Linked DNA regions of Homo sapiens. The protein of the gene in region 1 interacts with the protein of each later gene in a pairwise test. Each region holds a gene or a part of one and is shown in the gene's direction. Other genes may lie near its edges.

Region 1 (2,880 bases):
ATACTGACAGGGAGATGGGACATTCTGAGGGACCCGGAGGCAGGGTGCCACCTCCTCAACTTCCCTGAGGGCTGCCTAGAATCTGTTTCCTCTCACTCTGAATTATTCTTCCTCTTATGGCTGACCAAAAACATGGAACCTCACAAAGTCCACTGTAACAGCTTTATATTTGTGAAGTGAAGAACATGAAGACAGTTTCAAGCAAAGTTATTGAGTGGACACTTTGTGTTTTTTTTGAGAAGTCTCACTCTTTCACCCAGGCTGGAGTGCAGTGGCACGATCTCGGCTCACTGCAACTCCACCTCCCGGGTTCACGCCATTCTCTTGCCTCAGCCTCCTGAGTAGCTGGGACCACAAGCGCCCACCACGTCAGCTTAATTTTTTTGTTTTGTTTCTTGAGACAGAGTCTTGCTCTCTTGCCCAGGTTGGAGTGCCGTGTCGCAATCTCAGCTCACTGCAACTTCTACCTCCTGGATTCAAGCACTTCTCCTTGCCTCAGCCACCTCTTTAGCTGGGATTACAGGTGCGTGCCACCACACCCAGCTAATTTTTGTATTTTTAGCAGAGACCAGGTTTCACCATGTTGGTCAGGCTGGTCTCAAACTCCTGACCTCGTGATCCACCCACCTCGGCCTCCCAAAGTGCTGGAATTACAGGCGTGAGCCACTGCACCTGGCCTGTATTCTTTTCTTTAGTAGAGACGGGGTTTTACTGTATTTGCCAGGATGGTCTCGATCTCCAGACCTCGTGATCCGCCCGCCTTAGCCTCCCAAAGTGCTGGGATTATAGGCGTGAGCCAACACGCCCTGGCCACTTCTTGTCTTTGCAACATTTTTTAGATATGTATTTGTGTTTTTTGGGGAGCTTAATTTGCTAATGGAATCTCTGTTATTTTCCTAACATGCTTGGTGGATACAAGAGTTAAGACTTCCTGTCCCGTTTAGTGTAACAAAAGAAAGTTAAGAAATGTGGATAAAAGATTGTAAGTTAGAAATGGCAAGATAATCAGCTATATGAAGAATCTTGGCCAGGTGTGGTGGCTGAGGCCTGTAATCCCACCACTTTGGGAGGCTGAGGTGGGCGGATCACAAGGTCAGGAGTTCAAGACCACCCTGGCCAATATTGTGAATTCCTGTCTCTACTAAAAATACAAAAATTAGTCGGGCATGGTGGCGGGTGCCTGTAGTCCCAGCTACTCGGGAGGCTGAGGCCAGAAAATCGGTTGAACCTGGGAGGTGGAAGGTGCACTGAGCCAATATCACACCAGTGCACTCCAACCTGGTGACAGAGAGACACATCATCTCAAAAAAAAAAAAAAAACTCAATCCATAAATGTTATACTTTATAACTTTATAACAGCATGTTATATGGGCTTAGATATTATCCCTAAATTTTTTTTTTTTTTTTTTTTTTTGAGACAGAGTCTCACTCTGTCACCCAGGCTGAAGTGCAATGGCATGGTCTCGGCTCACTGCAACCTCCGCCTCCCAGGTTCAAGTGATTCTCTTGCCTCAGCCTCCCGAGTAGCTGGGCCTATAGGTTCCCTCCACCACGCCCAGCTAATTTTTGTATTTTTAGTAGAGATGGGCTTTCACTACGTTAGCCAGGCTGGTCTCAAACTCCTGACCTCATGATCCACCCCCCTCGGCCTCCTAAAGTGCTGGGATTACAGGCATCTGCCACCGCACTCGGCTTATCCCTAGAAATCCTATGATAGCATGATGTATAGGCACCTAAAGGCATGGCACTTGAGAAATGTGAATAAGATTGTAAGTTACAAATAGCAAGGTACAGTCAGATGTTAACAGTCTCAGCCCCTAAATGTCACCTTGTATTACAGCATGTTATATAAGCACATACAGGCACATACATGAAATAGTGATACTTCATTCTCAGTAATATCTTCATCCTTCTCACTGGAAAGATCTTTGATGATTTTTAATCAACATAGGAGTTTCAATGATATCTAGAAGTTTAAAAGGGCTCGTTCAAACAAATTATGACCACACACACTGAAGAGTATGTTTGTCTCTTGTGGTGTAAATTTTTTTTTATTACACCAAATTATGTTCACACAAAACCTTTGTAATCAGGGGGAATTAAAGAGCCTTCCTGGAAAATGGAGGTTGCAATCAGCCGAGATGGTGCCATCGCACTCTAGCCTGGGGAATAGAGTGAGATCCTGCCTCAAAAAAAACAAAAAAATTCTTTATTTTCTCCATAAACTACAGTTTATATAAGCAAAAGTTTCAGTACTAAGCAATTTTAGTCTCTGCAGTCTCTTGTCTTGAATTAATACAACTTTTGTTAATTCTCTTATGAAGTTAATCTTCCTGCTTGTATGTGAATTAAATATATGTCAAACTTTTTTTGTACAAAAGATTCATACCTCTTTCCTGTTTGAAATTATTTTACTGTGTTTCATCAATCTAATGTTTATTTTTATTACACCAGTAATTTCCTCATTGTGTTGAATCTTACAGTGGCTTATAAATCTACATGTACCTAGAAATGTTTAGCCAGTCCATGTATATTTGATGTGGCACATTTTTTCCTTTGAATCACATACTCTAAGAGAAGTAACTTCCTCTTGCTAACCTCTACTTTCCCTAAGTGTTGAATTAATCCTCTTTAGATGATTATAATTCTCTTTTCAATAGCTAGAAAGAATCTATAAGGAACTTTCCTGGCTGGGTGTGGTGGCTCATGCCTGTAATCCCAGCACTTCAGGAGGCCGAGGTGGGTGGATCACGAGGTCAGGAGTTCCAGACCAGCCTGACCAACATGGTTAAACCATGTCTTTACTAAAAATGCAAAAATTAGCACCTGTAATCCCAGCTACTCAGGAGGCTGAGGCATAGAATTGCTTGAACCTGGCAG
Region 2 (3,500 bases), on another chromosome or scaffold:
TAGGGGCAGGAATACAACTGCAGTGAGGTTATGTCCTCTCCAGTTTTCATATCAGCAAGCACATGATGTGGGGATTGTCCCAGTGCTGGTGATGGGAGCTTTTATCACTTGCTTAAGAATAATGTCTGCCAGTTTCTCCACTGCAAAATTATTATTTTTTCTCTCTGGAATTAATAAGTAATTTGTAGTGAGATACTTTGAGACTGTGTATAACCTGTTCCTTATCAAACTTATACCCACTGATTTTATCATCGTTGATCATTTTGAATCAATTATTTCTTCCGTATTTAGTAGTTGGCATTCTACTTTAAAAAAATCTTTTCCCCACTCCCTCCCTTCCTATCACTAGGGTCTCATGAATTCTTCATTTATTCAATGGGTTATAGTCAATTATTATCTTTATTTTATCTCAATGTTCACATTGTCCCAAACTTGATTAGTGGGAGGCTCTGCAAGCTGGCTTTCTTTGTTTTTGATGCATCTCCATGATTCTCTGTGCTCTTCCTTACTATTTACTATAGCAAGAAGTTACAGGCTTAGTTTCCTTACTTTGCTACAGCCCTGGAATTAGCCATTTGTCTGAAGAGCCCTGGATCCTTTTAGTCGAAAATGGTATTTAGAAACCAAGATTTAAAGGCTACCTGTGCTCCTTGTGATTGGTGTGTCATCGTTTATATGCTCTCTTAGCAAACAGAGTTAGGACATATATGTATATTTATTTCTCCAATCAACCAATACAATACATTGTTACATGTTTTTAGAAGAAAAAACCCCAAAGACTGTGATAGAGAGTAATGGGGTAGGAATACTTTAGATTGGGTGGTTAGAAATGGCCTCTTTCAGGAGGCAATATTTAGACAGACAGCATGAGGTGGGTGAATGGATTGGAAGAAGAAAGAGCCTGGAGATTGTTTTAATTATTCATACAGTAATTACCAGGGCCTGAACTAAGTTCGAATGAAGAGGAGGTAGAATCAATAGGACACAGTGACCGGTGAATGCAGAAAGTGAGGGAGATGAAGGAGTCTAAGTGACTCCCAGTTTGATGCCTCAAAGGCCTCTCAAACTCAATGTGTCCAAAACAGAATTTCTGTAGTTCTTCATCCTACTGAAACCTGGTCCTCTTCAGGTATTTTAGATTTCGTTGAATGACTCCTTCGTCTGGGTAGCTGCACAAGGCAGACAGACCTGGCAGTCATCCTCAACACCTCTCTCCCTCAAAACCCATATCCAATCCGTCCCCATATCTTGTTGATATTAGCTTGTAAATATCTCTCAAATCTTTCACTTCTTTCCATCTCCACCAGCATCATCCTAGTTCATGGTACCATCTTCACATTTCTGGGGTACCACAAGAGCCCCCTGGTACCCTTATATCCACACTGGCTCCCCTCCAATTTGTTCTCCACACAGCAGCCAGAGCGCATTTCAAAACACAACTCTGTTCATATCATTTTCTTCCTTAAAAGTACATTAGTTGCCTCCTATTGATCTTAAGATAAAGACCACACTCCTTAATAAGTCCTACAAGGTCTTGCTTGCCTGGCCCTGCTGCCCTCTCCTACATCTCCCTACCCAGCACTCCCTCCCTGGCTCTCCCTGCCACACTGGCCTCAGCTGAGTCTCAGTCTCTAGGGCTTGTTAGGCTCCCTCCCACCATAAATCTTTGTATTTGCTGTTCCTCTGCTTAGAATGCTCGTTCTTCCTGACTCCACCTACCGAATTCCTGCTTTACTCTCAGTTCTCAGCTGAGTTGTCACTTTCATAATCTTCAGGACCAGGTCCAACCCCATTTTATAAAGTTTTAAAACATGTGCCTCCTTCAAGCCTTTATCATAGTTTCAATTTTACATTTATTTATGTAATCATTAATGCTTACTTTCTCTATATGATGATGAGCTCTGTGAGTGTTGGAACCATGTCTGGTTTTGCTCGTTACTTTATCCTAGCAGGTATCATGGTACCATGTTACTGACACATGCCACAAATATATGTTGAACAAATGAATGAATGAAGATTTATCATCTGAGTAACCAGATAGATGATGGAACCATTCAGTGGAATAAAAATGAGAAGAGAAGTAGATTTGAGGAGGAAAATGATCATTCATTTTGGGACACCTGGCATTTGGGGTGCCTGCCAACCATGTCTGTCCCTCAGAGACCTTACCATCTTCTGTACAAATTAAGATGTCACTAAGGAGCTTTTGGGAGGCTGGTGACAGGTACATCTAATTCCCGGATGATTCTAAGAAGGTCCCTGGAGGAGATGGCTAAGTCACAAGTGGCATCCCTGAGCTGTGGCTTCTCTATCTATCCTTATCTCTGGTTTGTAGACCATACAGGAGATAGAAGGGGTTCCCAGGTGGTCCTGACTTGGCTCCTTGGGGACTTGTATAAAATATCTTTACAATTCTATGGAAGACTCCTTGGAACAAATGATTCACATTTGTCAGGAGCTGTCAACCTCCTTCCTACCTCTAACACTGCACTAGACATATGCTTAAAGGAGAATACAGAAAGTGGGTCTTACTAAGTCCAGTGAGCCATCCTTTCAAAGATGTCATCAGCACTAGGACAGAACAGCCCATTCCATCCCTCTGACTCACTTACTCTTACATTCCTCACTCACTCATTCAACTTTCTATCTCCTCTTGTTCATTCACCCACACACCCATCTGTCACCCAGCTATCCATCCGTGAACAAGAGTTTATGTTGGATTTATAGCAGGACTCAAGGCTAATGCATTATCTTCAGCCCCACTCCTGTATCCCTCTTTTCTATGGTCCTCACAGCTCAGAATCCCAGGTGAGGAGACTGTCAGGGGTTGGGGAGATGTCACTGTGCTGGTCTAGGGCTGGGCTGGGTATGATTGCAGGGTGTCAGCAGGAAGAATGGGAGACCAGAAGTGGCCACACTGATTACTCCTCTTGGCTCACTATCTGCTTTTCTGGCTTCCCCTCTTTCATTGGTGATGAGAAATTAGAGATTAGGCTCCTTATTCAGGTAGATATAAGATAGACTGGGCTTTGCAGAGGTGTTAGGGGGCTCTGGCCTTAAGGGGAAATAGGAACACAGCTCCCCATGAGCCCTATGGTGGAAAAGGTGATGCTTTTGTTTTCTTCTTCATTTTAGACTATGATTGCACTTTGGCCCTGTGGAATTTGCAGAGAGGCTGGGGGAGGGTGGGAGAGTAGGATTTTAAAATGTGGCATTTAGAAACCAGGCAGTAGACTAATCCTGGCCCCATCCCCATAGAAGCTGTTCTTTCAGTTCTCTTAGGCTTGTCATTTACAAAGAGCTCCCTAGAATGTGTGCTGTCCATCTGCTTTGGCGGCTGACAGGGCTGGAATTGAGCAGGCATAGGACAATGACAGCCACATTAGATAACAGCATCTTGGAAAAATGCCTGAAGGTTGCAAGGGTCTAAGTTACAGACTCATTTGCTCATTCCCTCCCTCACGAATTCATTCATTTATCTACTTAGCACCTACCTAGTA

Evidence for each region. Proteins that work in one complex are often made in the same cells at the same time.
Region 2: the proteins of ZNF587 (region 1) and INSC interact in binary tests that used the Homo sapiens proteins (3 or more experiments, as listed by UniProt).

Annotation. Positions count from the first base shown.
Region 1 is NC_000019.10:57,862,738-57,865,617, forward strand, and holds the end of ZNF587 (zinc finger protein 587), read left to right. Parts: 3' UTR 1-2,380; downstream 2,381-2,880. UniProt on the Homo sapiens protein: May be involved in transcriptional regulation.
Region 2 is NC_000011.10:15,121,423-15,124,922, forward strand, and holds part of INSC (protein inscuteable homolog), read left to right. Parts: intron 1-3,500. UniProt on the Homo sapiens protein: May function as an adapter linking the Par3 complex to the GPSM1/GPSM2 complex. Involved in spindle orientation during mitosis. May regulate cell proliferation and differentiation in the developing nervous system.